Regions from separate parts of the Homo sapiens genome. Here regions 1, 2 and 3 are each linked to region 4. Evidence: fine-mapped expression QTL. A gene starts in region 4. Each other region holds a variant in brackets. All regions are shown on one strand. Distances are from middle to middle.

Region 1 (5,936 bases), 19 kb after region 4:
GCAAGAGTTAATCTGATACTGCTGTTTCAGTGAGATTTAAATGTGATAAACTTGAAACATTTGAGTCCCTTTTGGTTTGGATGTGGAACTGTAGAGTTCATCAATAATAAATAAAAAAGAAGAAATCATTGGTTTCCAGCAAAGTATCATTTAGAATTTTATGTAGAAATAGGGTATAATGAGAAGTGAGACTATTTAATTTTGTATTACGAGTGCTTCTGGTGAGGTCTATTTAAAACATTTTCACATTTTCTATTACAAAAGCAATAAGGTTTACCACCTGCACATCCACTGACCCCAGTTCCGCTTCTCAGAGGCAACCTCTCCTAAGAGCTCTGGGAGTTTTATGTAATATGTTTTTGCATAGTGGGTCACGGATTAATTCACTCCCTACACTTGGATACACAAAGGGCAGCACCTCTGTTTTGCTCTAACTGATAGGTTATCTTTCTTCTTATAAGTCCTTCCTTTTGGGCAGCAGGGAAGTCCAGCCTTGCTCGCTAATGGGAGCCCAGTCCCTTCTGCTTTACTGTCTCCTTTCGCTTCGACACAGCTCCTTTCGAGGAAATGCTGCATCTTTCAGCGCTCCGCTCCTCCACCTTCTCTTTCCAAAGCTGGCACTTTGGGGAAGTTATCTGGACACTTACTGATACCTGTGGTGGAACGCAGATCACACTGTCCTGTGGTCAGCCTGGTGGCATCTGCTCTTACTTTCTTCAGTGAGTGGCCTTGAGGCCTGTACTCTGTCAGCCTGCTCTGACTGGGTCCACCTGTGATTCCCCGGGTGGGGGCAGGCCTGGGAGCTCTCAGCAAGGTTGGGTCAATCTCACTCCCCCATGCCCTTTGCCTGGAGACCTCCTTTGTAAACTGATCAGCGAGCACTACCAGACCTCTTTTGTGCCTCTCCCCAGGGAACAAAGGAACTTGTGCACACTCCCATGCCACCAGGTAGCTTAAAGTGTCCTCAGCCCCTAAATCCAGGCCCTTTTCCTGCCTTATCACACCTCAGAGGATTTCTCCTCCTGATGCAATGGCCGGGCACTATGAGGGGCAGTATCTTTCATGCGCGTCCGTGTGAAGAGACCACTAAACAGGCTTTGTGTGAGCAACAAGGCTGTTTATTTCACGTGGGTGCAGGCAGGCTGAGTCTGAAAAGAGAGTCAGCAAAGGGAGATGGGGGTGGGGCCATTTTATAGGATCTGGGTAGGTAAAGGAAAATTACAGTCAAAGGGGTTGTTCTCTGTCGGGCAGGAGTGGGGGTCACGAGGTGCTCAGTAGGGGAGCTTTTGAGCCAGGATGAGCCAGGAGAAGGAATTTCACAAGATAATGTCATCAGTTAAGGCAGGAACAGGCCATTTTCACTTCTTTTGTGGTGGAATGTCATCAGTTAAGGCAGGAACCGGCCATCTGGATGTGTACGTTCAGGTCACAGGGGATATGACGGCTTAGCTTGGGCTCAGAGGCCTGACATTCCTGTCTTCTTATATTAATAAGAAAAATAAGACGAAATAGTGATAAAGTGTTAGGGCGGCGAAAATTTTTGGGGGTAGTATGGAGAGATAATGGGCTGCTTCGAGCGGGATTGGGGCGGTGTGGGAACCTACAGTGGGAGAGATTAAGCTGAAGGCAGATCTTGTGGTAAGGGGTGATATTGTGGGGTTGTTAGAAGAAACATTTGTCATTTAGAATTATTGGTGATGGCCTGGATACAGTTTTGTATGAATTGAAAAACTAAATGGAATAAGAGAAGGAGAAAAACAGGTATTAAAGGTCTAAGAATTGGGAGGACCTAGGACATTTGACTAGAGAGTGCCTAAGGAGATTCAGCATAGTCCTGCCAGCAAAGATTATTTATTTACTTTAAGAGTTAAGAGTGGCAGTTTGGGGATAGCATCAGGAGATATCAGCTGTGATGACTTGGAGAAACAGTATAAACCGGCAGTGTAAACAAGAGCAGGGCATGTATGAGTAGTTGAGAACGGTGAATAGGAGTATGACTAGACAGAAAATAGTAGGGATGACAAGTTTTTTGGGGCACAGTCTAAGTTGGTCTGGTGTCTGGGATGAGACTGGGGCCTAATAAAAAGGAGCGTCCGTACAGGAGCTCAAATGGGCTGTACCCTGTAGCATTCTGAGGACAGGCCTGAATTCTGAGAAGGGAAAGTGGTAAAATTATTGTCCACTCCTTTTTAAGTTGGTGGCTGAGCTTGGTGAGGTGTGTTTTTAAAAGACCTTTAGTCCGTTCTACTTTTCCTGAAGACTGAGGACCAACCGTAAGGGATATAAAGGTTTCACTGAATACTAAGAGCCTGAAAAACTCCTTGGCTGATTTGACTAATAAAGGCTAGTCTGTTATCAGACTGTATAGAGGTGGGAAGGCTAAACTGAGAAATTATGTCTGACAGAAGGGAAGAAATGACTGCAGTGGCCTTCTCAGACCCTGTAGGAAAGGTCTCTACCTATCCAGTGAAAGTGTCTACCTAGACTAAGAGGTATTTTAGTTTTCTGACTTGGGCATGTTGAGTAAAGTCAATTTGCCAGTCCAGGGTGGGGGCAAATCCTCCAGCTTGATGTGTAGGGAAGGGAGGGGGCCTGAATAATCCTTGAGGAGTAGTAGAATAGCAGATGGAACACTGAGAAGTTATTTCCTTGAGGGTAGATTTTTACGATGGAAAGGAAATGAGAGGTTCTAAGGGGTGGGCTAGTGGCTTGTGCTGTAGCATAGCCTGCCTTTGCTGGTGTGTGGCGATTAGGCCTGGTGGAACTGCCATCAATAAATCAAGTGTGATCAGGGTGAGGAACAGGAAAGAAGGAAATATGGGGAAATGGGGTTGAATGTCTGGTGGATAAGAGAGGTACAGTCATGGTGGTCAGGTGTGGTATCAGGAATAATGTGGGAGGCCGGATTGAAGTCTGGGCCAGGAACAAGGGTAATTGTGGGAGACTTAACAAAGAGTGAGTCCAGCTGAAGGAGCCGGGGAGCAGAAAGTATATGTGTCAGGTGTGAGGAGGAAAATAGATTTTGGAAGTTATGAGAACTGTAGAGAGTGAGTTGAGCATAGTTTGTGATTTTAAGGGCCTCTAAAGTATTAGGGCAGCAGTAGCCACTGCACAGAGACATGATGACCAGCCTAAAACAGTAAGGTCAAGTTGTTTGGACAAAAAGGCTACAGGACATGATCCCGGTCCTTGTGTAAGAATTCCGACTGCACAGCCCTGCACTTCGGCTGTGTGTAATGAAAAGGGTTGGGATGAGTCAGGGAGAGCTAGGGTGGGGGCAGTCTCTAAAGCTGTCTTCAAGGAATGGAAAGAGGAGTGGGGAAAGGATTTAGGATCTATGGGGTCAGCTAGGTTTCCTTTTGTGAGTTTATATAATGGTTTTGTTAGGATGGCAAAACCAGGTATCCAGAGGCGAAAGTATCCAACCA[A/T]GCCCAGGAAGGAAAGGAGTTGTTGTTTTGTAGAAGGGGTTAGGGTTTGAGAGATCAGTTGGACATGATCGGCAGGGAGAGCACGTGTGTTTTTATGAAGAATTATGCCAAGGTAGGTAATGGATGGACAATAAATTTGAGCTTTGGAGGGGGATACCTGATATCCTTTGGAGAATAAATGCTGAAGGAGCAGAAGTGTGTCTTGTTGAGAAGATTCAAAGGAGGGGCTACAAAGAAGAAGATCCTCAATATATTGAATAAGGTGAGAAGCGGAGGGGTGGAAAGAAAGTAAATCATGAGAAAGAGCTTGGCTGAAGTAATGAGGGCTGTCCCTGAAACCTTGCGGCAACACAGCCCAGGTAAGCTGCTGGGACTGATGGGTGTCAGCGTCAGTCCAGGTGAAAGCAAAGAGAGGCTGGGACGAGGGGTGCAGGGGGATAGTGAAAAAAGCATTTTTAAGATCAAGAATGGAATAGTGAGTTGTGGAGGAAGGTATTGAGGACAAAAGAGTGTACGGGTTGGGCACCACAGGGTGGATAGGCAAAACAATTTGGTTGATAAGGCACAGATCCTGAACTAATCTGTAAGACTTGTCCGGTTTTTGGACAGGTAAAATGGGGGAATTGTAAGGAGAGTTTATAGGTTTTAGAAGCCTATGCTGTAGCAGGTGAGTGATAACAGGCTTTAATCCTTTTAAAGCGTGCTGTGGGATGGGATATTGGCGTTGAGCGGGGTAAGGGTAATTAGGTTTTAATGGGATGGTAATGGGCATGTGATCCGTTGCCAGGGAAGGAGTAGAGATGTCCTATACTTGTGGGTTAAGGTTGGGGGATATGAGAGGAAGACGCAAAGGAGGCTTTGGGTTGGGGATAAGGGCGGCAATGAGATGTGGCTGTAGTCCAGGAATAGTCAGGGAAGCAGATAATTTGCTTAAAATATCTCGGCCTAATAAGGGAACTGGGCAGGTGGGAATAACTAAAAAAGAATGCATAAAAGAGTGTTGTCCAAGTTGGCACTAGAGTGGGGGAGTTTTCAGGGGTTTTGAAGCTTGGCCATCAATACCCACAACAGTTATGGAGGCAAGGGAAACAGGCCCTTGAAAAGAAGGTAATGTGGAGTGGGTAGCCTCCGTATTGATTAAGAAGGGGACGGACTTACCCTCCACTGTGAGAGTTACCTAGAGTGTCTGTGATGGTCCTGTAGGCTTCTGAGGTGATTGGGCAGTGTCAGTCTTCAGCTGCTAAGCCGAGAAGATCTGGGAAGGAGTCAGTCAGAGAGCCTTGGGCCAGAGTTCCAGGGGCTCTGGAAGTGGCTGCCAGGTGAGTTGAACAGTCCGATTTTCTTGGGGGTCCCGCACAGATGGGACACGGCTTAGGAGGAATCCTGGGCTGTGGGCATTCCTTGGCGCAGTGGCCAGATTTCCAGCACTTGTAGCAAGCTCCTGGGGGAGGAGGTTCTGGAGGAACGCCTGGCTGCTGTGGTTCAGGTATTTGGAAGTTCTTGTGTGCTGGAGATGTGGCTGGGGTTTGTCTCACAGTGGAGGCAAGGAATTGCAACTTTTTTCTATTTTTGTACACCTTGAAGGTGAGGTTAATTAAGTCCTGTTGTGGGGTTTGAGGGCCGGAATTTAATTTTTGGAGATTTATTTAAAGTCGGGAGTGGATTGGGTAATAAAATGTGTGTTGAGAATAAGACGGCCTTTTGACCTTTTAGGGTCTAGGGCTGTAAAGTGTCTCAGGGTTGCTGCCAAATGAGCCATGAACTGGGCTGGGTTTTTCATATTTCATGAAAAAGAGCCTAAATGCTCTCTTATTTGGGATAAAGAAAAGGAGCATTAACCTTGACTATGCCTTTAGCTCCAGCTACTTTTTAAGAGGAAATTGCTGGGCAGGTGGGGGAGGGCTAGTCATGGAACGAAACTGTAAGCCAGACTGGGTGTGAGGAGGGGAGGTGATAAAAGGATTATAGGGTGGAGGAGCAGAGGCTGAGGAAGAATTGGGACCTAGCTGGGCCTGGCATGGAGGAGAGAGGTCAGATGGGTCTGTAGAAAAGGAAGATTAGAAAGACTCGGCGACACTTGGGGTTGGGACTGAGGGGACAGGCGGGAAGGAAAGAGGGAAGATTTGGGACGAGTTGCATTGGGAACACAGACTAGGGAGGACTGATGTGTAAAAGAATGCCTGGACGTCAGGCACCTCAGACCACTTGCCCATTTTATGACAAGAATTATTTAGATCTTGTAAGATGGAAAAAATGAAAGTGCTGTTTTCTGGCTGTTTGGAACCACTATCGAGTTTGTATTGGGGTCAAGCGGCATTGTAGAAGAAAATAAGGCCTTTAGGTTTTAGGTCAGGTGTGAGTTGAAGAGGTTTTAGGTTTTTAAGAACACAGGCTAAGGGAGAAGAAGGGGGAATGGAGGGTGGAAGTTTGCCCATAGTGAAGGAGGCAAGCCTAGAGAAAAGAGAGAGTAGAGACACGGAGGGAAGGGGTTCGGGGGTTCTTACCCTC
Region 2 (5,936 bases), 81 kb after region 4:
AAGAGATCACCCTGGGTTATCCAGGTAGGTCCCAAATCTAATGACAAATGTCCTTCTAAGAGACAGAAGAGAAAACGAAAAAAGAAGGCAGAGGCAGAAAGTGGAGTGGTGCAGTCATAGTCAAGGAGCACCTTGAGCTGCCAGAAGCCAGAAGAGATAAGGAATAATTCTCCCATAGGGCCTTCAGAGGGAATGCAAATTTTATTTCAGATTTCTGGCCTCCAGAACTGTGAGAGAATGAATTTCTATTTTTTAAGACACCAATTTTGTGGCACTTTATTAAGGTAGCCCTAGGAAATGAATACATAGTTTGGTGACTAGAAATGAGGTGCTACTGTAACAAATACCTAAAACTGTGGAAGTGACTGTGGAATTAGGTAATGTGCAATTACCCAAAGCTGGAAGAATTTTGAGGCAGAGGATAGAAAACTTCTGGATTCTGGTAAGGGCTCAGAAGGAAGTAGGGTACATGGTAGACAAAGCTTCTATTGTCTAAGAGAATACAAATATTGCTGTAAACAGAATGTTGCTAGAAGGAAATGAAGAATGTGTTACTGAAAGCTGAAGGAAAGGTCATCTTTTATATACGGGCAGAAAAGTTGGCTGAATCATGTTTTCTTTGTTGTATGGAAAGCCTAATTTGTAAGCAATAGCTTGAATATTTCTGAGTAGAAATAAAAGCAGACTTCCGAGAAAAGTATTAAAGATGCAGGCTGGTTTTTCCTTGCTGCCTATAGTCAAATAAATACAAGCAAAAAGATAAGATAAGAAAGGAACTGTTAGATAAAAATGAACAAGCACTTTTATTTTGGAAGTTATCAGTCTACCCAGATTGCAAAGGATGCTAAAGTTAGGAAATTCTGTTAGGAAGCGTGTTCTAGAGAGAAGATCAAGGATGTGGCTGGACAACCTTTTGCTGAAGAGATAAAGCATGACTCATGGATACACTCAACCACCTCACCAGAAGCCAAAAATAGAAATGAGTTACTCATGGGAAATCTGTGGAGAACCCTTTTGTCTAATGGCATGAATCCCTGGACCCCCACAGGAGAACCACAAGGGTTTTGAGAATGTTGTATCTGCAGACTGCCAGCTTGAACTTTTAAAAGGATAGAAGCAGGATGAAATGTGAGAACACTATCAGACTTCCAAACTTCTACAGACAGAAAGTGGGCCAGTAGAGCTAGTCAGCTGTAAATATTTGCTACCATTTAAGAAAATGAAAGAATGATCCTGAGGCCACTGTAGGTCCAAAGGATAGACCACTGTGGACTCAGAGGATAGGGCTACCACAAACCCAAAAGGCAGAACGGCCATGGGCCCCAAGGGTGTGTTGAGTGACAGAGGATTATTCTCAAGGCTTGAGACCTAATGAAATTTGCCCTGCTCAGTTTTGACTCCTTTGGGATTGGTGACCTCTTTATTCCTTCCATTTAATATTTTTTGGAATGGAAATGTCTATCCTATGCCTAGCCCACCTTTGTATTTTAGATACTTGTATTTAGATAACTTGTTTCCTAGTTTCATAGGTCCAGAGATGGAGAGGAATTTTGCCCAGGATAGACCATACAGATTTCAGCAACACCTGATTTAGATGATGCAATTTGTAACTTTTTGAGTTGGTGATGTTTAGATTAGATTTGGAACTTAAAGTTGATGCTGGAATGGGTTAAAACTTTTGGAAATGTTGGCCTGGGGCCATGCTGCTGCTGTGCCCTGCCTTCTGTGGCCCAAGCCACCACTGCACTTCATCCTCTCACCAGAGCCCATGCCACTGGGGAACACCCCAGAGTTTTCTGGGGCCCATCTCTGCTGCTGCTCTGAATACTCATACCCCAGAACCCAGTGCTGCTGCAACTGCCTGCAGGCCATACCAGACCTGGCACCAAGAAGGATCCCCTCGGTTAGGACTTCTTTCCCTAGAGGAAAAAGAGCTAACAGGGAGATCCCAGAAGTCTTTGCCGCCAAGGATCCCAACAGCCTTTGCTGCTGCTGCCATAACTTCAGATATCTGTAGCCTTGGCTGTCTAGGACTCCTAGAGTTGTCCCCAGTGCTGACCTCAATGATAGAGCTGCATGAAGAGTACACCACAGCACACTCTCTGAAACCAGAGCTGCTGTACCCCACCCAACTGGCGTTCCCACACCTTCCTGGAGGTGAAAGTATTTCCCCCACTGAGGCTAATCTGTAATGTCTGGAATAGGTGACTGCTCCCTCAAGTGTGCAGATATCAATGCAAAGCCACAGGAAATACAAAAAGTCAAGGAAACATGACACTACCAAAGGAGCACAATAATTTTCTTATAACTGACCCCAAATAAATGGAGGTCTATGAATTGCTTGAAAATGAATTCAAAATAATTATTTTAAAAAAGGTCAGTGGGATACAAGAGAACACAGGTAGATAACTCCACAAAATCAGGAACATAATGTGTGAACAAAACTAGAAATTCAACAAAGAGATAGAAATCATGAAAAGAACCAAAAAGAAATCTTGGAGCTAAAGAATACAATGAATGAAATGAAAAATGCAGTAGAGGACTTCAACAGCAAAGTCAATCAAGCTGAAGAAAGAATCTGTGAACTTAAAGACAAGCCTTTTGAAATTATCTAGTTGGTGGAGAAAAAAGAAAGAAAAAGTAAAAAAAAAAAAAAAAGCTATGGGACTTATAAGACACCATTAAGTGCCACAATATTTGCATTACAGGGGCCTCAGAAATAGAAGAGAGAGAAAAGGGAAGAAAGCTTATTTAAGAAATAAGGCTGAAAACTTATTAAACCTTGGGAGATACAGACATTCAGATTAATGAAGCTCAAAAGTTCCCATTCTCAACCCAAGTAAGTCATGACAGAGACATATATATATATAATCAAATTGTCAGAAGTCAAAAAAAAAAAAAGAAATTCAAAAGCAGCAAGACAAAAGTGACATATCAGACACAAGAGAATCTTCATAAGGCTGTCAGCAGATTTCTCAGCAGAAACTTTACAGACTAAGAAAGAATGGGATAATATATTCAAAAGGCTGAAAGAAAAAACTGTCAATCAACAATACTTTCTCCAGAAAAGCTGACCTTCAGAAATGAAGGAGAGATAAAGACTTTCCCAGATAAACAAAAGCTGAGGGAGTTTATCACCACTAGACCTGTCTTACAAGAAATGCTAAATGGAGTTCTTCAAGCTGCAATAAAAGGACACAGTTACTAAGATGAAAATATATGAAAGCATAAAATTTGCATGTAAAGGTAAATATTATAGTATAATATTATACTATAATATTTACAGTATTTATAGTATTATAGTATAATATTTGATATTTTATGTTTGATAAATATAGCAAATTCATGATATTCTCATATGTAATGGTATGTAAGTCACTTTTAACTCTATAAAGGTTAAAAGATAAAAGTACTAAAAGTATAACTACACTATTTCATTAGTGGATACATAATATAA[A/C]AGATGTAAATTGTGACTAAAAAAAACCCATAAAATGCGGGGTCAGAGAGAGGCAAAAGTATAGTATTTGTATGCAACTGAAGTGAAGCTGTTATCAGCTTAAAACAGACTGCTATAAGATGTTTTATGTATGCCTCATGGTAACCATGAAGCAAAAATCTATAGTGTATACAAAATGATGAAGAGAACAGAATCAAACATACCACAGCAAAAAAAAAAAAAAAAAAAAAAAAAAAAAAAAAAAAAAAAAAAACCCCACAAAGGAAGACTGCAAGAGAGGACAAAACGTACAAGAAAACTACTGCATAGTCAGAAACAATTAACAAAATGGCAGGCTGGCACAGTGGCTCATGTCTATAATCCCAGCACTTTGGATGGCTGAGGCAGGAGGATCACTTGAGGCCAGGAGTTCGAGACTACCCTGAGCAACATAGCAAGACTCTGTCTCTACAAAAAATTTTAAAGAATTAGCTAGGCATGGGAGTACACACCTGTAGCCCTTGCTACTCTGGAGGCTGAGGTGGGAGGATCACTTGAGCCCAGGAGTTTCAGGAGTTCAAGGTTACAGTGAGCTATGATAGTGTGATTGTGCCACTGCACTTCAGCCTCAGTGACAGAGCAAGACTCTGTCTTTAAAAAATAAAATAAAATAAAACAATAAGTCTTTACTATCAAAAGTGACTTTAAATGGATTAAATTCTCCCATTAAAAAATAGAATGGTTGAATGAATTAAAAAGAAGACAATTATATGCTTCCTATGAGAGATTCACTTTAGCTTCGAGGATACACATAGGCTGAAAGCAGAGGGTGGAAAGAGATATTTCGTGAAAATGGTAACCAGAAGAGAGCAGGAGTGGTTATACTTATAACAGAAAAAATAGACTTTAAGTAAAAAACTGTTACAATAAAAGAAAGAAGATAATTGTTTAATGATAAAAGAATCACTTCATCAAGAAGATATAGCAATAGTAAAGATTTATTCACCCAACATTGGAGCAACTAAATATATAAAACAAACATTAACAGAACTGATAATATTAACATAAACTGATAATACCAATACACTGTCATTAGTACAACATTAACTGGTAATATTGGTATAAATCAAATATTAACAGAACTGGTAAGGAGAAATAGTACAATAATAGTAGAGGACTTTAATACCCAACTGTCAACAATGGATAGATTGTCCAGATGGAAAATCAATACGGAAACATTAGGTTTAAACAATCCTATAAACCAAATGGAATCAACAGACATATACAGCACATTCCATCCAACAGTAGCAGAATATACATTCTTCTCAAGTGTGCATGGAACATTCTCCAGGGTGGATCATATATTATGTCATAAAACAAGTCTTAATAAATTCAAGAATATTGAAATCATATCAAGTATCCTTTCCAACCATGATGGTATAAAACTAGAAGTAAATAATAGGAAAACTGGAAAACTCACAAATATGTGGAAATTAAACAATATACTTTTGAGCAATCAATGGGTCAAAAGAGAAACCAAAGGGAAATTAAAAACATTGAGACAAATTAAAATGGAAACTCAACATACCTAAACTTATTGGATGCTGCAAAAGTAGTTCTGAGGAAGACGCTTGTAACAATAAACACCTATTTTAGGAAAGAGAAAGATCTCAGAAAACAACCTAACTCTATACCTCAAGGAACTAGAAAAAGAGCAAACTAAGCTCACAGTTAGCAGAAGGAAGGAAATAACAAAGATCAGAGCAAAAAATAAATAAAATAGAGATTAGAAGAATAATAGGAAAGATCAACAAAACTAAAGTTTTTTAAAAGACAAGATCGACAAACCTACACTGACAAAAATTGACAAAATTGACAAACTAAACAATTTTAGTTTGGCAGCCAAAATAGACAAAGTTAGACTGAGAAAAAAAGAGAGAATACTCAAATGAAATCAGAAATAAAAGAGGAGACATTACAACTGATCCCACATATATGCAAAGAATCATAAGAGAATAGGATGAATAGCCAACAAATTGGGTAACCTGAAAGAAATGAATAAATCCTTAGAAACTACATCCTACCAATACTAAATCATGAATAAACAGAAAATCTGAGCAGACCAATAATGGGTAATGAGATTGAACCAATAACAAAAATCTCCCAACAATGAAAAGCCTAGAAACAAATGGATTCATGGGTGAATTCTGTCAAACATTTAAAGCAGAATTAGTATGAATTCTTCTCAACCTTTTCTAAAATACTGAAGAAGAGGGAACGCTTCCAAATTCCTTTTATGAGGCCAGTGTTACCCTGATATCAAAGCTAGACAAGGACACTAAAAGAAAAAAAACCATATACCAGTATTCCTGATAAACATAGATGCAAAAATCCTAAATAAAATACTACCAAATGGGATTCAACAGCACATTAAAAAGATCATTCACCCCAAACAAGTGGATTTATCCTTGGGATGCAAGGATGGTTCAGCTTATGCAAA
Region 3 (5,936 bases), 120 kb after region 4:
TTATGATGATGGGAGAGTTTGAGGCAATCTGAGTGTTCAGTATCAAGTGGGAAGACTTTGTGGTGGACACAGAAGCTAGAAGGAATAGGTTAGATGTCCACATAGCAACAAGGATGGGTCTTATTAACACAGACCTGTGTTCATTACACAATTATTTCAATGAGGAAGATGGAGTTCAGGTTTGAGTATTTCAGACTCACAATACAATTTAATTTCTTTATAAGATTTTAATAATTTATTCCTTCCTCCTTTCCTCCCTTCTTCTCTTCAATCATTTAGTTAGTATTTTTTGATTGCCAGGCACTATGCTGAGCTCCAAGGATTCTGTAAAGAATGGCATAGGTGTTTTTACTCCTCTCATGGAGCAGCAGGACAGGCAATAACAGATAATTATATAAATAAATACATAGTTATGCATGATGATGAATTCCTTGAAGGAAAATTACAAATTGCTAAATTACAGAGAGGTGGACAATGGTAGGCCTCTTTAAGGAAGTGACAGTTAGCTGAGACCTAAAGAATGGGATTTCCCCAGAATAAGCAGGAGAAGAATGTGTCACTCAGCAGGAATAGCACAACAAACTTCAAAGGAAAAGGGCCCAGTGTCCATGAGAAACTGAAAGGAAGCTGATATAGGTGCGCATATGAGGGAACGGGGCTGGGATGCAAGATTGTGCTGGAGAAACATGCAGAGACGCCCTCTAAGTCTTGTTACTAATCTAAGATGTTAACCAAAAAACAATTGGTATCTGTTGAAGTGTTTTGAGCTGGGGAATAAAATGATTTGACAATATAAGATTATGTCTTTGCCATAAGGAGAAAGGATTGGAATAGGAACAAAAATGGATGCAGGAAAAACCATTAGGAGGTTTCCCAGGAGTTCAGGAGAGAAGCGACTTGGACAAGGTGGATGGTAGTGGAGATGGAGAGAAGTTGGATGGATTTGAGAGATATTCCAGTGGTAGAATAAACAGAACTTTGTGTTATATTGGCTATGATGGTGAGAGTGGTGGAATCAAGGCTAACTCCTAGATTTCTGGCTTGAACAATTAGGTAAATGTTGGTATCATTTACTGAATGGGACAGGCTAGAGGAAGACCACGTTTTCAAGAAAGGATATAGAGTTCCATTTTGGACATGTTAAGATTCCTGTATAGTTGTGTGCAGTTGGGTCTAGAGCTGAAAGAGCAATCAAGGTTATATAAATAAATGTGGGAGTGATGTATATAAAGAATGGAAAACATATTTAAAGTCATTAGAATACATGAGTTAGCTAAGAAGGAGAGTATATAGTGGGAAGAGAAGGGGCCCCAGGGTGGAGCCCTGAGGGGATCCAGTGTTAGAAAAGGAAAAGCCAGGGCAAGACACCATGGCTCATGCCTGTGATCCCAACATTTAGGAGACTGAGGTGGGAGGATTACTTGAGCCAAGGAGTTTGAGGCCAGCTTAGGCAAGATGGCAAGACCCCATCTCTACAAAACAATAAAAAATTAGCCAACCACAGTGGTGCATTCCTGTAGTCCCAGCCACTTGGGAGGCTGAGGCTAGAGGATTGCTTGAGCCCCAGAGGTCAAGGCTGCAGTGAGCAGCCTTGCAAAGTGAGACCCCATCTCTAAAAAAAAAGAAAGAAAAGAAAAGAAAAGAAAAGGAAGAGCCAGGAAAGGACAGCACGAAGGAGAGTCCAGGAGAAAACCTAGAAGTGTGGTGCCATGAAAGTCAAGAGAAAAGAGTATTTTGTGAAGAAAGTGATTGCTGTGTTGAATGGTGCTGAGATATTGAGTAAACTAAGACTGGAGAAGGTTCAATGGAATTGGCAAGATGGAGATCATTAGTGACCTTGAGAAGAAGTTTGGGAGATAGTAGATGTAGTAGATGTGGGAGAAGTCAGCTTACAGTTGGATTAGTTGTGAATGGGAGATGAAAAGTGGAGGTAGCATATGTACACAAGTCTTTCAGCAAGTATGACTGTGAAGGAATATAAGGAAACAAGTTAGCATATGGAGGGGACTGTATTGGACACCTCTTGTATGTTACTTTAAATCCTGTTGGCTCTGCTCTTAGCCTAGCCACTGCCTTGCTAAGTTCTGAGCTCCTGCAGGCTTAACTTGGCCATGCCTTGCTTTGAGCCCTTTCCTCTCACATACTACTCTAGGGCTTCTTTGTTTTGTGGCTGGGAACATGTGAGGGAACCTTTTCAGCACTCATGCTTGTGCAACCCAGAAACCAGGGGAGTTGACAACCAAGGGATGACCCTTGACTACAGGGCAATAAAAGCTGATAGATAAATGCTGTCCTCTTTTCTCTCTTTGGTGGACAGTTTTTAAGACCCATTGCATAAGTTTGCTCAGAAGGTCCCATGGGATTGGTGCCTGTAAAGGTGATTTAAAAAAAGGCATCTGTGTATTGGCTTCACTTCATTCTTTACTTTGCCCCTCTTTTTCCCACCTTGGGATCACTTCTAGATAAACCACCTGCGTGCATTCAAGTGTTTGACTCATACTAGAACATGATAGAAAAGACCCAGTAGAAAAG[G/A]AAAAGATGGAAACACAAAAGAGGTAAAGGATAACTAATGGAGCAACACCTTTGGGAAGGTGAGAGTAAATGGGATCCAGAGTCCTGTGGACAGGAGAGCAGATGAAGATGAATTTGGGGCAGGTCTGTTTGTTTGTAGTTTGGGGGTTGTATAGATGAGAGAGTTTCTGTATTAGAATTTAACTGGAGAAGCAATTGAATATATATCTGCTACTGAATATCTGTATTCTATATATAGAGAGAGATTTATTGCAAGGAATTGGCTTGTGTGATTGTGGGAAACCTCCAAAATTCACAGGGCAGGCTGTGAGGAAGAGCAGGCTGTGAGGAAGAGGGCTGGAACTCTCAGGCATAAAATGAAATGTCCACAGGCAGAATTTCTTCTTCATCAGAAACACCTCTGTTCTGTTATTGAAGCCTTCCATCCAGCTGATGGGACCTGGCCCACCTGAATAATCTAGGATAATCTTCCTTACTACAGGTCAACTGATTATGCATTTTAATCACACCTACTAAATCACGCCTTCACAGCAACACCTAGATTAGTGTTTCATTGAATAACTGGGGACTGTAACCTAGTCAAGTTGACACATCAAAAAACAATCACACTATTTTCACCCCTAGAGCTGGAATATCTAATAAAAAATTTTGTAATAATAGAAATGCTTTATATCTGCATTGTCCAGTACAACAGCCACATGTGGCTATTGAACATGGTCAGTGGTTGGTGCAACTGAGGGACTGAAGTTTGGATTTTATTTAATTTAAATTAATTTAAATGTAAATAGCCATGTGTATCTAGTGGCTACCGTATTGGGCAGCACAGTTCGAGAGTATAAGGCAGGGTCATCAGTTGAGAATATTATTGCTAGTTAAAAAGAATACGTTGAAAAAAATAAATTGATTTATCAAAACTAATGAAAAAGAACATAATATGTTCTCATTTGTTTTTCAACTTGCACAGCAGGAATCTCTTAGTCACAGCTAACATCTTTGATGCTGATCCTGCAATTTGCCTGTGTCATAGTTTACAAACATGAACAGTAATCATGAGATTGTGATTCTAGCTGAGCAGGCTATACCACGCAACCGTAGGTGTGTATTCCAGCACGAAGCAAGCAATGGTCTGTTTCCCAGAGGCACAGGCCCTCTTCCAGATGGCAACCCATTATAAACAACAGCGCATGTACTGCATCACGTACTCCAATTAATAGCCTGCATTACATCTCATCAGCACTATGAAAACACATGTGATAGGAAACTTGTCCTTTCTATGACAAAGAAAAACTCAGTGATTTCTTAAAAATAGAAAACATATGAGGCATGTTGCCTCAACACACTGCAATGAGACTTAAATTAGCAATGACAATAAAACTACTCATAACACTTGGAAGTGTAAAAACATTATTCTAAATAATTCTTGGGTCTAAAGGAACTCAGAACTGAAATTAAGATTTATTTAGGTAAACTGATGGTAAGACTACTATATATTAAAAAGCGGGTACAGACAAAGGCATGTTAAAATAGTTCCCTCAGATGACTTTAAAATACCTTTTTAGAAAACAGGAGAATAAAATAAACATAGTTACATATTCAACTCTAGAAGCTAGAAGAAGAGGATCAAAATTAGGCTGGGTGTGGTGGCTCATGCCTGTAATCCCAGCACTTTGGGAGGCTGAGGCAGGCAGATCACTTGAAGTCAGGAGTTCAAGACCACCCGGGCCAACATGGTGAAATCCTGTCTCAACTAAAAATACAAAAATTAGTTGGGCATGATGGCACATGCCTGTAATCCCAGCTACTCGGGAGGCTGAGGCAGGAGAATCACTTGAACCTGGGAGGTTGAGGTTGCAGTGAGCCGAGATTGTGCCACTGCACTCCAGCCTGGGTGACAGAGCAAGACTCTGTCTCCAAAAAAACAAACAAAAAGATAAAATTAACTCAAAGAAATAGAACATAGTAATAAAGACAGAAAGAAAACTGAAGTGTAGAATTGATAAATAAAAGCTAGAGTAAAAGCTAGTGTTTATCCTTTATAAAATATACATGTCTGGGAATTTGTACATTAAAAAAAGTATAATACATTTTAGGAGTGAGGAAGTATAAATAAGGAAATATAAAAACATTTCTATGATTATACATAAGAGCCAGTATTTATTGAGAGCTTTCTATGTTTTGGGTACTACTGTTAGATGAATGTGTGGTTAAATAAACTATCCATGCAGTAGAACACTGTGCAAACATCAAATGGAAAGAGGTAAATCTACATAAACAACACTGAAAGTTGTCCACGACATACGAGCAAGTGAGACAGGCAGGTTACAAAATTGAATGCACATATGATCTCATTTAAAAAAAAATATCTATTTGTATTTCTATTAATATCTACATTTTAAAAATCTAGAATAGTCTAGGGATTGGGACTGAGTCAGAGAAGAGAACTTTTTTACTTTATCCATTTCTGCCTTGTTTAATCTTGTTTTACAATGTGCATGAATTACTTTTAATAAATGCATGATATTTCAAAGTAGCTATGACTTGAAATGTTCCCAACACAGAGATGATAAATACTCAAGGGATGGACACCCCCAAAACTGATTTGATCCACGTAACAAAATATCACATGTACCCCATAAATATGTAAAATATTATATGTCAGTTTTTAAAAAGGCAAAAAATAAGTACATGGATGATAGTTTTAATGCCACTAAGTATGTTAAACATGGTTATCAGTTTCCAGGAGACTGCTGTTTGGAGAACATTATTTCACTTAGGGAGTGCTCAAAGCAAGGCCACTCTGACAGTTTTGATTCTGTTCCATACACTTCTCACTCATTCTTAAAGAGGACATGCTTTGTCGTGTGCATGGCATATTTTGTGGTGTGCTCTTCAAGCACGGTCACGAACTAATGAATCTTGATAATGGCACATGTCACAAGGAATGGAAACTTGAGGTGAATTTCAGAATGCTTGAAGGGGTAAAGTTGAGATATGCAAGGACTGCAGGCTCTTGAGGGCTGTATCGGTGAAGTCCCAGTTGATCAAGACCTTTTGGTATCTGTACCAAAAGAGGGACTGAGGCTGTGGCTATCTTTGTCCAGTAGGGCACAGGCACTGGAAGAGGCAGCTTCAGAGCTACTCCATTGCAAAGCATCAGCCAGCCTGGCTTCGCACCCAGACCAGTTTTATAACTTAGCATGTTTTTATTTTTCTTTATACTTTCTTCATGTCTGACTATCTCTTGCTTCTGGCACAGCCATTGTATTCATACATTTCTATTGAGAATTTTTAAAGGTGTTCTGATAATGACTTGCAATTCTCCCCGGCTGTTAGTGGCAACTTTTGAAGTTACCAGCGAGCTGTTCTTCCAAGGTTGGGGACGAAGTTTGTTGTTTACTTTCTCT
Region 4 (5,877 bases):
CATCTGCACAGCTCTGGCTTGTTCCTCACTACTCTCAAATCTGTTCTGGAGGTACTCTAGGTATACCTCAAACTCCAAAAGACCAGTGATGATTTTCACCAGGCAAGTCTCCTAAGAGGAAAGATGGTGGGAAAATTGGTTATCGCCAGGAGATAGAATCAATTTGAAAAGTTAAAATTGCCACAGTTCGACATCTTTTCCCTCTGCTCCTCTAGAGAACTTCAAGTACCTCTTAGGCAGCATGTTTTGGGACATTGGACAGCACCATTTTAAATAACTGGACAATCAGAGGCCCCATGTAATTAGTTTTATCCAAAGCCCAACAGATGCTAGAATGTGGCAATGGGGATCCTTCTCTGATTGTCCCCCTTGATGTTCTTCCTGCACTCTTGCCCTTGTTAATGCTGGGCTGGAACCTCCTTTTATAAAATAATCAGAAGACAGTGCAGGTTATCTCACTGTGGAGAATGAGCTGGGCAGGGAGGGAGGGCAGACCTGGACCCTGCCAGGGGCAGCCAGAGAGGGAAAAGGCCCTGAGAGTACCTTTCCCAGGATGAACTAATTAAACCTGTGGGAGTTTTAAACATTTGACAGTTGTTAAAATCTCACCACAGTGGCACCATCTCTGGCCATACCTGTCCAAGAATAAACTGCCTTTAAAAAAGCTTGAAGTTGGCCTCCTCATGAAATTTACATAACATTCTTTACATTTACCCACTTTTTGTTGCTGCCTGGATCTATATGTATACAGGCACTGCATGCAAGAGGGAGAAGTTTTGCCTAAGGAATAGTGAAAAGTGAGTGCGACAAGTTGGTACCTCATTGAATCCAGATTGGAAGCATCCATCTTTTTCAGCCATCTTTGGAAGGTTCAGGTTGTTTTCTGCCAGTGCCTCTTTGCTGCTTTCACACATGTTACTCTTGTTACATGTCTGGGAAAGAATACCAGAATTGTTATCACCTAAGTGTCCCTAAAACAAACACCACTAGAGGGCCTTTTCATTGTTCAACCACAGCCAGGAAAGTCTCTAAGAAAAATGAAGCTACAACTCATTGGCATCCTGGCAAGCAAATTCCAGTGGAGTGGGGGCACACTTGGGTTCAGTTCCAAGCTCACCTGTGACTTTAGGTGTGTTACTTAATCCTGAGTCTCAGTTTCCTTATCTCCAAAAACCTTCCTTGCAAATTTGTTTTGAAGATTAGACACAATATTTATTTAAAGTGCCTGGCACACAGTAGATACTTAATAACAGCAATTTTGACAATAATTAGGAGAATATAATTCAAGCCATAGAATGTTCCAGCAGGAAGGATCTATGAGATCACCTAGTCCACGCCCAATTTTACTGATGGAGTCCAGAGGTGGTAGGGAATTTACCCAAGATCACAAGGCTGGTTTGGCAGAACCAGAATTCGAGTGTGGGCTCCCAATCTCCCCTCCTGTGTTCTTTTCTTTCTACCAAACAGGACCAAAATACCTTGCATTGAAAGTGGGGAGATGCTTTAACCTATTTATGATTTGCCACTTTGGTGGGCTCTGAGGTATGAATCTTAGCTGGAATGGCTTTGAGGAATCCTAGCCATTGAGTTTACATAACCAAAAAGTACTGCAACTGCTCTGAGAAGCTGAACATGCCTTTCAGGTGGCACTTTTCTAGTCCTTCCAAAGCCCGGGGGACAAAAAGGAGCTTCACAGACCTAATTTTTTGGAAAGGGAAAAGGAAGCCCTGAGAAGCAATAACCCTCAGCTCATGCCAAAGGTGGGCATGGATTTCAGACCCATTCTGCATTTTCCAGAAAGGAAAGGAACTTCCTGACACCAGCAAAGGATAAATACAGAAGTCAGTCTAGTCGGCCCCGTTGGCCTCAAATCTACAGTGCTCTAGAACCCAGCAAAGACCTCCTAATGCAGGCAGCCCCCGGCCACACGCAGGGGCAAGGGGAACGCATGCGCACCGGGCCCTTCAACCCCATCGCCAAGCCTACCCACCTCCTTTCTCAGGGCTGAGATGCCGTCGAGGATGTACCGAATTTGTTTGTCAATTCGTTCTGAAGAGGTGAGTGGCTGTCTGTGTGGGGCGGCTACATCTTTGGAATCTTCTCCTGGGGGTACTGGGGCAGGGAAGGCAGCAGGCAACACCAGGAGCAGCCCCAGGGAGAAGGCAACTGGACCGAAGGCGCCTGTGCCGGAGGGGAGCGAGCGCAGGGGTGAGCTGACAGCACAGCTGGGAGCCTGCCTCTGCTGCTGGCCGCCCGCCAGCCCTCCCTGGGCCACACACCCCTCCCTCACACAGGGCTCGACCGCCGCTGGCAGTTCCAGGGCTAAGGATTTCCTGCACTTACTTGTGGAGAAGGAGTTCATAGCTGGGCTCCTGGAGGGGAGATAGAGCTTCTCTTTCGTTCCCGGTGGGCTCGAGGGCAGAATGAGCCTCAGACATCTCCAGTCCTATATTTATTGGGGGTTGAGACTCTAATATTGAGACTCATGGGAAAATCCCACATTTGATAAATCTTTGTTGGAGGGTGAGGGTGGGGCCAGAGCGGGTGGGGCTGATTGGAAACCTTATTAAGATTGTGCAATGTGACGTCCTTTAGCATGGCAAGACACAACTAGGGGGAAAAGTGCAGCTTAGGTCGTCATTGAGGCTAGCGCTAAGAAGCAGAACCACTCTTCCTTTACTTTCTTTTTTTCTTTTATTAGTGACTCAGCACTTTGGCATGTCTTGACAAAGAGTAAAGCTGAAGTCATGCACGAAGTTTTACAAAGAGAAAAAAAATAAGCTAAAGCTATGTTTTTTGAAAAAAAAAAAATTTTTTTTCAGTGACCAGATTAACAGGCTAGAATTTAGCGTTCCAGTTAATTTGTATTTGTAAAAACCAAAGATGTTCTGAACTGAGTTTCCTCTGACTCCATCGCAGCCCCCCAAGCCTGGGATTATGAAGAAGGTAATACTACCAGTCATCTGAGTTCTTCTGTGTTCTGGCTCTCCCTGTGAGCGGCTGTTGTAGAACTGCCTGGCCATCCTCAAATTTCGTGCAGTTACTTCAAGGCGTCTCCAGGTGGAGTGTGTGACTCCTTTTTGCCACCGCGTGGCTTCTGCCACTTTCTTCACCTGCTTCAGCCCACTTAGAGGAGGTTGGCTGCTGCCCTGCCCTCTCCCAAGTGACCCCTTGGGAATCCTCCCAGTGAGGACTTTGCTCTCTGTGCCAGAGGTTTGCCTTGTGCTGCCAGTGCTCTCCCCATTGCCACTGAGTCTCTTCACCACTGTTTCACTGGGGCACCTGCATGGGCCCCAGGTCTCCTGGAGCCCTGAAATTACTGAAGCCCACTTGGTTCAGGGCAGAAAGGGGGAGAATACTACTCACCTCTTTGTTGGGGATGTCAAAGGAGGACCTTGTGGCATCTTGCAGAGTTTGTGTTTATCGCTCCCTCTCCCTGTAAGTCTTGATTTGAAATCAAAAGAAGCTAGAAGGAAACTACGGACGCAGGCACGGCTCTAGGCTCTGAATCTGCTTCCGCGTCGGCACCCAAGAATTTCTTATTGGGTCAAGCTGGTTCAGAAGCCCTCTTCCCTCAGGATGGTGTCTCTTGCAGGAGGATCCTTGGTCTCATGCAAATGGGCTCTAGACTAGGTTGTCCCTCCAGTCTCCAGAGACCCAGACAGCTCTGAGATGGCTTCAGGCTGAAACCAGACCCTTGCACAACACCAAAACACTTATTTACCAAACATGGTGTTACCTTCACAATCGGTTTCTTTGCTTTGCTAAGAAGAGATCTCTTCAAGATCGATAAAACAGTGACCTCTGTTGGGCATTTACTCAAGTTTTGTTTCGTGCATAACATTTCAGGACCCGCCTGTTGGGGAAAGTGAGGTCATCCATTCTTCACCGATTGTCTAAACAGAGACGGTGGTCCTCTGCCGCGGTGGGATTCTTTGGTGTGAAAATGAAAATGGGGGAGGATGGCTGGATGGTTTCATTTTTAGTGCTCTCCTGTCTTAAGCAACGTAGACACTCCTGAACCAAGTTCTCTTTCCTGCATGAAACGAAGCCACTGCTCCCAGCTCCGCAGCCGTGCACTGTGATCCGTCTATGTAATGTGAGCTTGCTTTTACTCAACTATCTATTTTTTAGAAAATACAATTCAATAAATTTCAAGTACTTGAACTGAGTGACACAATACAACACACAGATTTATCTTTTCAATAAAAAGTGTTTTTTAAATAGGAAGTTCGTGTTCATGATAAAATGTTCAAATAGGACATCAGGGCATGCAGGGAAAAGTGTCTCCTTCCTCTCCTGGCCCCTTTTCCCAGAGGTAGCACCTAATTGCCTGTATTTTCAACCAAATCCTCTGTTATCCTAGCCTGGGAAAGGTTTTCTCGTCTTCCCAGCTGTTTGATCCTGGCTGTTACATCAAGGACCTGTGCCCTTGTTTATTCACCTATAAAACGGGGGTAATAATAGTTCTTCCTTTCTAGGGCTGTTGTGAAGATGGAACGTGATGCAGTGTAAAAAATTCCTGGCGCATAGTAATCCCACAATACATGCTAGCTCTTTGAACATTCCTTGGCTCAGAGTCTCTGCCTTGGAGAGCTCTTCCAGCTCGGCTATATCGGTTCACCTGGTGTCTTGCCTATGAAGGAATTATGAATGAACCAGGCCTCTGTGCCAGCAATGAGCTGGTCTCCCAATCATTTTCCCTCAAAAGAAATGAGATTCTATGTTTTGTTGAAAATGTTTTATGGCACAAAGTGCAAAATGAAAAATAATAATAATTTTCTTTTTTGAGAACATTAAGATCCCCAAACCAGGTCTCTTGTTTTAGATAATTAGTCCAGCTTGCGTCTTGCTCCTACTAGACTTTTTCCAAGCCCTCCACTAAGTGTTTTTATGTCAGAATTCCACAGCCTTCCCTGTGCATGGTGATTGCCATTAATTCAAACTCCTGATAGTGGCCCTCGAGGGTGAAGGGGCCTGATGCTTCTGGGGTCAAGAAAGGGCAAACTGTGGGAAGGCATGTGTGTAGGGAGCTTGGAGACACTGTCTGCCCCCTGCACATCGCAGCATGGCACTTTATTAGTATCAATGCTTTGGGCTGGAATTTGCTTGTGGGAGAGATGAGCTCTACCTTGCTCCAAAAACGTTAATGTAACTGACATGTGCAATTCCACAATGATAGCTTCCTTCCTTTGCATCTCAATGGATTTTTCGCGTGGAGAGCTCATTCTTTGTTTTTTCTTGTTTTGTTTTGTTTTTTCTCTTGAGAAGGAGTCTTGCTCTGTTGCCCAGGCTGGAGGGCAATGGCATGATCTTGGCTCACTTCAACCGCCGCCTCCCAGGTTCAAGCAATTCTCTTGCCTCAGCCTCCTGAGTAGCTGGGACTACAGATGCATGCGACCACGCCCAGCTACTTTTTGTATTTTTAGTAGAAACGGGGTTTTGCCATGTTGGCCAGGCGGGTCTTGAACTCCTGACCTCAGGTGATCCACGCGCCTCGGCCTCCCAAAGTGCTGGGTTTACAGGCGTGAACCACTGTGCCCAGCCCCTTGTATTTTTTAAAGGGCAGCTTTAGGTCATAGCAAAATGGAGAGGAAGGTACAGAGATTTCCCATATATCCCCCTCTCCCCCCAACTCTCCCCCGTATTTTAGTATGAATACGTGACCAGAAAAGGCTGTGCTGTCAGCATTTATTAACTAATACTTTAGTTGCTGGATTGCATCATAGCTGATGTGAAGTGAGCGCCAGCTGAGATCAAGAGAGGCCAGACAAATGGGAGTGCACAGGGAGGAAGCAGCAACTTGGCTTCCTATGCCACCAGTGTGGGGCTGGCATGTCCTATCTGGATCTCCCAGAATTACTGCCCATGACTGCT

Direction of the effects. Positions count from the first base shown, and alleles are read on the strand shown. Sizes are in standard deviations (SD) of each study's normalised expression. Not every link is listed here.
For the expression in monocytes after LPS of the gene that starts at base 2,425 in region 4, allele A in region 1 goes with a higher level than allele T (moderate effect, 0.74 SD a copy in Fairfax 2014).

Evidence for each region. PIP is the estimated chance that this variant, and not a neighbour inherited with it, causes the effect.
Region 1: its variant is the best candidate, but not a certain one, in a credible set for the expression of IL6 in monocytes after LPS (Fairfax 2014, PIP 0.87).
Region 2: its variant is the best candidate, but not a certain one, in a credible set for the expression of IL6 in whole blood (INTERVAL, PIP 0.68).
Region 3: its variant is the best candidate, but not a certain one, in a credible set for the expression of IL6 in whole blood (TOPMed, PIP 0.56).

Annotation. Positions count from the first base shown.
Region 1 is chr7:22,704,438-22,710,373 of GRCh38, reverse strand. No RefSeq gene overlaps it. Among named protein-coding and RNA genes, the nearest start is that of IL6, 20 kb to the left of the region's middle. RefSeq lists an enhancer at 897-1,533. The variant A/T (reference allele first, on the strand shown) is at 3,429.
Region 2 is chr7:22,642,642-22,648,577 of GRCh38, reverse strand. No RefSeq gene overlaps it. Among named protein-coding and RNA genes, the nearest start is that of IL6, 82 kb to the left of the region's middle. The variant A/C (reference allele first, on the strand shown) is at 3,458.
Region 3 is chr7:22,605,082-22,611,017 of GRCh38, reverse strand. No RefSeq gene overlaps it. Among named protein-coding and RNA genes, the nearest start is that of STEAP1B-AS1, 45 kb to the right of the region's middle. The variant G/A (reference allele first, on the strand shown) is at 2,533.
Region 4 is chr7:22,723,748-22,729,624 of GRCh38, reverse strand. It overlaps IL6 (interleukin 6), which reads right to left and starts at 2,425. Exons shown (of 5, transcript NM_000600.5): 1 at 2,344-2,425; 2 at 1,991-2,181; 3 at 819-932; 4 at 1-111. The coding sequence starts at 2,362. IL6-AS1 (IL6 antisense RNA 1) reads left to right here and starts at 2,005. Exons shown (of 2, transcript NR_131935.1): 1 at 2,005-2,057; 2 at 2,920-4,230. RefSeq lists an enhancer at 1,776-2,975 and a silencer at 2,961-3,010.